Linked DNA regions of Homo sapiens: region 1 is linked to region 2. A link means that fine-mapping ties the variant in region 2 to the expression of a gene that starts in the linked region. Tissue or cell type: whole blood. Region 2 holds a variant in brackets; the other region holds the start of a gene. All regions are shown on one strand. Distances are from middle to middle.

The links. PIP is the estimated chance that this variant, and not a neighbour inherited with it, causes the effect.
Region 1: OAZ2 starts here. The variant in region 2 is fine-mapped to the expression of OAZ2 in whole blood (INTERVAL, PIP 0.98).

What each region holds. Positions count from the first base shown.
Region 1 is chr15:64,700,224-64,705,369 of GRCh38, reverse strand. It overlaps OAZ2 (ornithine decarboxylase antizyme 2), which reads left to right and starts at 2,089. Exons shown (of 5, transcript NM_002537.3): 1 at 2,089-2,341. The coding sequence starts at 2,322. LOC124903507 (a long non-coding RNA gene) reads right to left here and starts at 827. Exons shown (of 3, transcript XR_007064679.1): 1 at 738-827. RefSeq lists silencers at 1,954-2,273, 2,284-2,503 and enhancers at 4,132-4,969, 4,970-5,146.
Region 2 is chr15:64,320,578-64,325,717 of GRCh38, reverse strand. The region is part of intron 1 of CSNK1G1 (casein kinase 1 gamma 1); the gene reads left to right. Among named protein-coding and RNA genes, the nearest start is that of CSNK1G1, 33 kb to the left of the region's middle. The variant A/G (reference allele first, on the strand shown) is at 2,785.

The DNA.
Region 1 (5,146 bases), 380 kb before region 2:
ACAGAATAAATCTCTCTGAGGTTTAATTCTCTTCATCCTTAAAACGAGGGTGGAGAGCTGTTCTAAAATTTAGTACTTTACCCATGATGCTCAATAAATGGTCGCTATTATTGACATAGTGAGTTCTCAATATTTGTTGATTCATGGGTCAAAAACTGTCCTTCAGGTTAAAGGGTTACTTGGCCAGGAATGGGCTGGCAGAAGTGAGACATTCCAGCTCCCTCTGAGGGTCCAGGAGGATTGCCCAGGTCTCTGGGACTATGCGATGGGGTAGATCAGGGCTGGGTTTAAATGTCCAATTTTGCTAAGTACTAATGTAAGAACATACCTGACTTGAACCTGGAGGAGTAGGTAGGGATAGCTGAGGGACAAAGTGGAGGATCTTAAAGTGAACCAGAGTATGAGACCAGCCTTGCCTGAATATCTAGTGATAATCCGGGCAGTTTCGGTATCATTTACCACTTTAATTTGTGTTGAAAAAGCCTTAGCTTGGTAGCTCCAGCCTTCCTTCTGTGCCTCCATCCCCATCATCCAAAACCCAAAAGCATGCTGTTTGTGAAGGAGAGTAACCATATCCTGAGATGACTCCAATGTGAGATGTTTGTGAACTGAAAGTCATAGTGACCGCCGATCTGGAGTGTCACCCTTTCTCTGAGTTATCACTCTTTCTGCAAAGCTGTCCCTAATTCCCTAAATTACTTTCTCTGTGGCATTCCTCAGATTGAGCACTTACTTACCTGGTATTGTGATGACCTGTGTCTCTCCCCTTGACCGGATTGTGACATCCAAGGCAGGAACCTTGCCTGGTTGATTATGGCGTATTCTTGGACTCTAGCACATGCCTGGAGCATACAGTAAGTAGCTATTCAATAATTATTTGTTGGCCGGGTGCGGTGGCTCATGCCTGTAATCCCAGTACTTTTGGAGGCCGAGGCAGGTGGATCACCTGAAGTCAGGAGTTCAAGACCAGCTTGGGCAACATGGTGAAACCTCGTCTCTACTAAAAATACAAAAATTAGCCGGGCATGGTGGTACATGTCTGTAATCCCAGCTACTCAGGAGGCTGAGGCAGGAGAATCGCTTGAACCCGGGAGGTGGAGGTTGCAGTGAGCTGAGATTGTGCCACTGCACTCCAGCCTGGGCCACAGAGAGAGACTCCATCTCAAAAATAAGTAAATAAATAAAATAATTATTTGTTGAATAACTGAATGGATGTAATCTGAGGTGACAGAGTGACCCACTGTGATCTGAGATAATGTGACCTCTCTTGATTGCAATCTGGGTTGACTGTGAACAGAGTCGGGGCTTTTGATGATTGTGTTGAAGTGTCTGTGATTGTAACCTACAAGGACTGTGATCTGAGGGGTCTGCGCACCGGTGACTGTGGCCTTCAGGCACTAATCTGTCATAAGGACCAGTAGGGATAATGAATGGAGGTGACTGAACTAGTAACCTTGCATGATCGATTGAAGTAACTTGCACTGATTGTGATCTGAAGTGACCGTGAACAAGTTAGTGACGACGCTTTCCACGACTGTCTTGTTGTGACTGTGCTCATGATCTACAGAGTTCTGGCTTCAGATGACCTAAGCCAGTGCTTGGAGCAGCCTTGACGATTGACATGAGATGTGTGCGAGATGCTGAGATTGTTGATCTACCCTGACAGCTGAGGTTATTGATCTGCATTATGAGCTGAGATAACAGATCTGTGGGCCTGGACTCAGACTAGGAATGGTGCTAATATGTGTGTAGTTCTCTTAAGATTTCTGATTTTGTTTTAATATCCTCCCAAATGGCACAGCCCTGTTCGGCCCCACGCCAACAAGGAATAGGGATGAGGACCAGGTTGAGTCAATCCTCACAGAAAACTACCGGAAACACAACGCATCTTCTGGGCCGCGCTGCCGCAGCTGCGGGCAGACCCACCGCCTTGGTCATGGCCTCCTGCACAGCCTGCCCTTCGTTCGGACCCCCTAGCCCTACCCCCACGATCGGTCCGTGGTGCGCCTGCGCGGAGGCGGGGCGGTGCTTTGCCCTTTGTTGTGGGCCCCAGTTTCCCAGGACACCGCGCGGCGCTGGGGTGGGGCTATGCAGATGAGGCACTCGGGGGCGGGGCGGCGGCGGCGGCGGCGGCGGTGGCGGCCGGGGAGGGTCAGTTGGAGGCAGGCGCTCGCTGAGGCAAAAGGAGGCGCTCGGCCCGCGGCCTGACAGGGACTTAGCCCGCAGAGATCGACCCCGCGCGCGTGACCCCACACCCACCCACTCATCCATCTATCCACTCCCTGCGCCGCCTCCTCCCACCCTGAGCAGAGCCGCCGAGGATGATAAACACCCAGGACAGGTAACGGCCCGGCCCAGGCTCCCCGCCCCCATCCTCCCTCATCTGCTCCAGAGGGCCTCTCACGTACCCCTAGCCGGCCCCCGCCCCCCGCAGCGGGGCCATCCGCCCCCAGCCAGGTCCGTTCACCACTTCAGCCACCCTAGTCCGGTCCTCAGCCCTGCAACTGGGCCTTCTTCTGTCCTTTAGCCCCCTCTTCAGCCGGGCCCATCCCCCTCATCCGGGCCTTCTCCTCCCCTAAAGCCCCCAAAAGCCGGAACCCAACCTTCCAAGCAAGTCCCCTTTTTTCTTTCAGCCCCACCGAATTGTGCCCCATTCCCCAAACTGGGCTTTCCCCGGCATCCAGATTCCCCAAATTGTTTCCTGTCTTCCTCAAATCTTTCTTACTCCCCTTATAAGTCACTTCACCCTTCCCTTTGAATTCCCTCCCTGATGAAAACTGCACCCCCCACCCAGACTCTTCTCATATCACTGCCCCCCGCAAAGTCAACCTCCATCCTTCAGTTCTCAGTTTACCCCCACTCATCACCCTCCCCCCATTCTCTTCAGGCCTAGCAGTCCTTACACAGATGTCCAGCCTCTTCCTCCTGGTCCCATACTTCAGCTTCATCTTTCCCCCACCTTCCCCTCTCCACACCCCTCTCCCAGTTAGGCCCCATTTTCCCAGTCTCCCAGCGCCATTCCTTTTATTTATCAAACACCAGGTTTGATTCTTGTGCTCCATCCTGTTGCCCCAATGGTATACCCCCAACACTCTTGGAAACATTCTTACCCTCTAAACATCTTTTCTCAGCTGGAACTCATCCTTCTCCTTCCCCTCTTAACTGAATCCCGTCTTTGGATCATTAGATCACAGGACCCAGCCATCTCGCTTCCAGTGAACCTTCCCCCTGTACCTCCAGTGCCTTCAAACCAAGCTCTATATTCTGGACACTAGATCTTTGCAATTTCCTCCCTCAAAACCCGACCCTAGTCTTCCCCCATTAATTAGAGAAAGGCTGCACATCTTTCTCAGACCGAGCACCCTGGTTTTCCAAACTTGCATGGTATATCCTTCCCCCTGCAGATAGTTCCTCAATTTTCCTTTCTCTACATGCCTCTCTTTCTCCAAGACAACCCTTCTCACCTATCTCTCCCTCAAATTTTAATATATCCCATATTTCTGCCTCTGTTCTCTGAAACTGTTCCACAATTTCCTAATTCCCCGGAATTTTTAATCCTAGTTGCTCCTTATACATCAGAATGGCTTTCATTTACAATTTGGACCTAATTCTCTTCCTCATTTTTTCCCCAAACTTGTTGCTGTCCTGTCCAAACCGTGTCTGAAGCTCATTAGTTCCCCACACCAGACCTTTTGTCCCCAGATTTGGCCTTATGGCCTCTGCCTCTCACTTGGGCCTCATTATTTTGCAAGCAGATCCATTCCCTGTAAATCTTCCTTAAATTGGGCCATGTTCTATTCAGAATTAGACTAGTTCCTCTCAAATGCATTGCCTTCTTTATTGCTTTTCTTTGCATAGAGCCCTCTAACTGCCACTCAGGATTCCTCTCAAACTTGGGCACTCTTCTTACTGAAATAGTCTCTCAACTTTCCTTTCCCACTTGTTAACAGCACCAGCCTTAAATATTCCAACTGGGTTTTCAGCTTTTCTTGTATTTCAGTGTTTCTTACCCTGGCTTCACATTTGAGAAATCAGTCACTTGGGCCTTACCTTCAAAGATTGGTCTCATTGGCCTAGAGTGTCCTGATTATTAGCATATAGTTTTAAAGCTCCCCAGGTAATTCTTTATAATGCAAAGCTGGGGTTAAAAACCACAGCTTCCTTCCTGCAGCTTTTCCCATCCTATTCCTGTAGTGGGTGTCAGCCCTTTTCTACTGACAAAGGCCTAATTTTCTTCGAGGAATATTTTTTTTTTTTTTTTTTTTTGAGACAGGGTCTCACTCTGTGGCGCAGGCTGGAGTGCAGTGGTGCGATCTGGGCTCACTGCAACCTCTGCCTCCTGGGCTCAATTTCTTCAGGGATTTCTTAGTCTTTCTCTCTCAGGTGCTGTCCAGAAGTGCCCAAGATACAATACCTGCAACAGCTTCTGAAGTTCCTGTCTGTACTCAGTTCTCAGCCATTGGCCATTTTCTTCCCCCAAGTCTCAGACTCTTAACTGGTGCCCTCCCCCTCATTTCTTCTTTGCATGCAGGAAGAAAATTCACTCGCCGTTTGATAATTTGTTATGGTCTTATTTGACCTGTTATCCCTGCCTCCCATGTTCTCTTTACCCTACAACCCATCAGCTGTTAGAGTTTCCTTTTCCAAGACTCTCCATGTCCATCCCCTCTGCATTCCCCCCTTTCACTCCATCTTCTGTAACCCAGCCCCTCGGGAGCTGAGGAGGTGGAGGCGGATATAGACACGGAGAGTGCTGGATGCAAAGGTGTTACTTGTGGCAAAGGCGCCGTGTGTGCTGAGGATAGATGGCAGGTATGAGAGAGGGCAGGATGAAGCACAGGGGTGGAGGGGAGCAGAGAGACCTACAACAAAACCCACTCAAGGGGTATGTGAGATAGACTTTTTTTTCTGTTCTTTTTGTGTGTCTGTAGTGGGGGTTGGAAAGTGGGGTGGTCTCAGCAGTCATTCTCTGGAGTCCTCTGGACTGAGCTGGTCGAAATGCCGAGTCTTTTGTAGGCTGAGCCCTGAGAGTTGAGCAACTTGGAACCAACATGTAAGAGTCTTCACCAACTGTGAGGTTGAAAGACCTGAGTTCTGGCTGAGCCAGTGTGCTTACATGTGAAAAGAAGAGGGGGTTGGGTTAACT
Region 2 (5,140 bases):
ATAGTGCCTGGTATGCAGTAGGCACTTAAAAGATGCTTGTCTTATTACTGTAAAAATTTAGAGATGTGATTTAAGGCCTAAAGTTATAATAGTTAAAGGTAGTTATAATTATGGAGCTTTTAAAACCTTTATTTAAAGTAGTTGTGAATCTACTTCTCTGCTATTTGAGTAAATTTGTTATAGAAATGATTATATAATTTTTTGTGATTCTGGGGCTATGAGTTTCTCTTGGTATGAAGTAAGTAAGCCATTATAATATGAGAATAAGGCAGTACTAACAGCTATCAGGATATGTGCATTGTCTTTTAGGCAAGCTCACCACCTGTATACCTTCTCCAATTAATAGAATTTGGAGTTGTTTTTACTGAAAATAATGAAAGATGAGTCTGAAAGCTGAGCATATACATTTGTAGAATTCAAACGGATGCCTGCTATGCTGCTTATGAGTGAGATAATGTAACTGTAGCTATATCCCAGTGAAGGTAAAATATCACTAACAACCACTTGAAATTGTGTTGCTCCATTCTCCTTAAAATATACTTCTATTACTGTGTAGCTGTAGGGGATGATTATAGGAAAAAGTGTCCACTACCCAGATGTCACAAATACTGAAAACAACAAAAGAATTCTTTATTAAATCCTGTATTAATCAAGTTCTCATGATTCAGATGCTTTTTACATGTTCAATAGTTACCCTGCTAACACATATTACAGAGTATCAGACTGTATGGTAATAATTTCACTGTACAATACAAGCTAATTTAGTAGGATTCTATTGATGTATTCAAAACTTGAATATTTTACATGAAAATGTACTTATTCCCTAAAAGAATAAATTTTCTTATAATACCATGTGCATTTGTTGCACAGTCAGCAGTGACTCTTAAGAACCATTAAAGAAATTTCATGGAGTTCCTTTATAATTAGGCAACAAGAATATGTGGTCCTAGGGTGTATTAGTCAGGGTTCTCTAGAAGGACAGAACTAATAGAATATATGTATATATGAAGGGGAGTTCATTAAGCCGAATTGACTCACACAGTCACAAGGTGAAGACTCACCATAGGCCATCTGCAAACTGAGGAGCAGGGAAGCCAGTCTGAGTCCCAAAACCTCAAAAGTAGGGAAGCAGACAGTGCAGCCTCCAGTCTGTGGCCGAAGGCCTGAGAGCCTCTGGCAAACCACTGGTGTAAGTCCAAGAGACCAAAAGCTGAAGAACTTGAAGTCAGATGTTCTTCGAGGGTAGGAAGCATCCAGCATGGGAGATAGATGAAAACTGGAAGACTCAGCAAGGCTGCTCTTTTGTCTTCTTCTGCCTGCTTTATTCTAGCCATTTTGGCAGCTGATTAGATGGTACCACCCAGATTAAGGGTGGGTCTGCCTCTCCCAGGCCACTGACTCAAATCTTAATCTTCTTTGGCAATACCCTCACAGAAACACCCAGGAACATTACTTTGCATCCTTCAGTCCAATCAAGTTGACACTCAGTATTAACCATCGCACAGGACAATCATATGCTTCGGTATTTATAGGTTTGGGTAATCAGTGTAGTGTTTATAAATACATAGTAGTGTAAGTCAGGGGCTTTTGAGTCAGGATGTCAAGTATCTACCTGACAAAAGTGTCAAAGCCTCTACTGCTTTCTAGTTTTGTTACGCATCTTACTTGGTTTCCTCATCTGTGAAGTGAGAATTATAGTAACAGTATTACTATCCATAAGGTAGTGGAAGGATTTAATGAATTAATATATTTAAATCATTTAAAGTGTACCTGGTGCATAAAGGCCCAATAAGGTTTAGATGGTGTAGTTGTTACTGTTCTACAATGTGACATGTCTTAAAGCAAACTATTTTTATAGAACAGTAAAATCAGCTGGGAAAAGAGAGGCTTTGTTTTAAGAACACTAGTATTCCTTTTGCATTTCCACATAGCTATAGAGTGAGAAGATAAGGGGATAATGGCGTTTTGAAGGAAGGAGGGGAGTAAATATAACTTTAAAGATTTTAATTGGATGGGTGAAATTGTTTATATGTTTTAAGTATAGTCAGTAATTGGCCAGGCACAGTGGTTCATACCTGTAATCCCAGCACTTTGGGAGGCCGAGGCGGGTGGATCACCTGAGGTCAGGAGTTTGAGACCAGCCTGACCAACATGGAGAAACCCCATGTCTACTAAAAATACAAAATTAGCTGGGCGTGGTGGCACATGCCTGTAATCGCAGCTACTAGGGAGGCTGAGGCAGGAGAATCGCTTGTACCCAGGAGGCAGAGGTTGCAGTGAGCCGAGATTGCGCCATTGCACTCCAGTCTGGGCAACAAAAGTGAAACTCTGTCTCAAAGAAAAAAAAAAAAGTATAGTCAGTAATTAAATAATTTTTTGAGACTGGACAAAAGTTAAATAAAAGTAAGCTAGTAATTATATTCAATGTCATAGCAGATTTTAAACCACAGCTTTTCAGGTTGCCAGTAAATACCACACAAAAGCAAGAGGAGGCTGGTTGTGCTAGCTTACACTTGTAATCCTAGCACTTTGCGAGGCCAAGGCAGGAGGATCACTTGAGGCCAGGAGTTCAAGACCAGCCTGGGCAACATACTAAGACTCCATTTTTTAAAAAGAAAAAAGGAAAAATTAGCCCAGCATAGTGGCGTGAGCCTGTAGTCCTAGGTACTCAGGGGGCTGAGACATGAGGATTGCTTGAGCCCAGGAGGTTGAAGCTACAGTGAGATGATTGTGCCACTGCACTCCAGCCTGGGCAACAGAGCGAGGAAAAAAAAAAACAACCCA[A/G]AAACAAAACGAGGAATGTAAAAGTGCAGTGCATTTTACAATGTTATGATTAAAGTGAACTCTATCTTAAATTTTATAATAACTGACTTTATTTTACTTACTTATTTAGTTTTTGAGATAGGATCTCCTCTGTCACCCAGGCTGGAATGTAGTGCTCACTCCAGGCTCTGCCTCCTGGACTTAAGTGATCATCCCACTTCAGCCTCCTGAGTAGCTGGGACTACAGATGCGCACTACCATGTCTGGCTAATTTTTGTATTGTTTAATTAATTTATTTTTTTGCTAGAGACAGGGTTTCACCATGTTGCCCAGGCTGGTCTTGAATTACTGGGCTCAAGGGATCAACCCATCTTGGCCTCCCAAAGTGCTGGGATTACAGGCATGAGCCACCATGCCTGGCCTGTACTAAATGAGATTAAAAACTTGCTTTGGGCCAGACATGGCGGCTCATGCTGGTAATACCAGCACTTTGGGAAGTCAAGGCGGGAGGATTGCTTGAGCCCAGGAGTTCGAGACCAGCCTGGGCAATGTAGTAAGACCTTGGGCAATGTAGTAAGACCGTGTCTGTATTTAAAAAAAAAAGAGAGAGAAAAGAAAACTTGTTTTGCTTGCATGTACCAATTGAGAGTATAGTATGTGCTTCAAAGGAAAAAGGTTTAACTGTTGAACAGCTTTAGGAGAAATAACCAAATTGCTTTGTGGGTATTTCATGCACAAAACTAGGAAAGAGAAATGAATATGGGAGGATTCAAGTTACAATAAGACTTTATGCTCCATGAGAGGAAGATATTACATATTACAGAATATTGATTTCAGAAGGCAAAAGATATTTACTACTTATGCTCCATGAGAGGAAGATATTACATATTACAGAATATTGATTTCAGAAGGCAAAAGATATTTACTACTTAGAGTAATTTAGTTAAGAAAAAAGAAAAAATACAGTAAAATGTTAGATAAGATCCAATTAGAGCCTACCAGGCACTCTTGTGAGGTTTGTTACTGCCTTCTGTGGTTTATCAGTAGCTTAGCGGGAACTATAGAAAAATAATTCAGGCTTTATGTCCCAAATCATAACTGTAACTCCCTCCATTCTTCTCCACTTTCAGTAGGTGGAGGAAAGTCTTACTCAGGGAAAATTTAACAATATGGTCATTTCATAATTAGAAAACTTTATTAATACTGGTGTTAGGTGTTTGACCAGACACTTTTAAATTTACCGTGTTCATGGCTTCCTTAATTGAGTACAATATCAGAAGCAGCTGTCTTCATATTAGCCAATAGCCCATAGATCTTTAGTAATTTTGTGCATGATATATTATGGCCATTTCTCTTTATATTATAAAACTGTCATAGAAATGCTTTAATTAGGCTGGGTGCGATGGCTGGTGCCTGTAATCCCAGCCCTTTGGGAGGTTGAAGCAGGAGGATCGCTTGAATCCAAGAGTTTGAAACCAGCCTGGGCAAACATAGCACAACCTAGTCTCTTCCCCCACCAAAAAATAGAAAAATTAGCTGGGCATGGTGGTATGTGTCTGTGGTCCCATCTGCGGGGAAAGCTGAGGTGGGAGGATTGCTTGAGCCCAGGAGGTTGAAGCTCCAGTGAGCCATGACTGCACTGCTGCACTCCAGCCTGGGCAACAGAGCAAGTCCCTATCTCCAAAAAAAAAAAAAAGGAAAAAAAGAAAAAAAATGCTTTTTTTTATTTCAGTGGGTAATAAGCTGTTATTTTGTGTGATGCTCATTTCCTTAAATAATACATTAAATTGTTATTTTTTGCATTTGAAATTGAAAAATGGGAATTTTTCTCTTGAATAAGAAACAGAAATGAATTAAACTTATTACCAATAGTAATCATACTATTCTGAATTTCTCTATAGAGAGCATTATAAATATCTCATACTTTTGCTTTTATATTACGAATTTGTATTGTAGGGTGAAAAAGATACTTTTTAATCTTAAACAGGATATTTTCCTTTGTGTTTTGTGAATTCCCACCCTTGTTTTTGGCAATGTAGATCACTTACGCTAAAGATTTAAAAAGCCATATTTCACTTTAAGAACTTGAGACCAGAGGTTACAAACTGGTGGTGTGGACAGTATTTAAAAATTTTAAAAAATTAATTGCGAACATATAAAAACTGGGAGATTTTATTAAAATTTCAGTGTTAAGCAACTTCTGAAAACTCAGAGCTGGCCACATTGCATGGGACCCGTATTCTTTTTTTTCTTTTTTCTTTTTTTTTTTTTTTTTTGTGATGGAGCCTTGTTCTGTCACCCAGGCTGGAGTACATTGACACGATCTCAGCTCACTGCAACCTCCACTTCCTGGGCTCAAGCGATTCTCCCGCCTCAG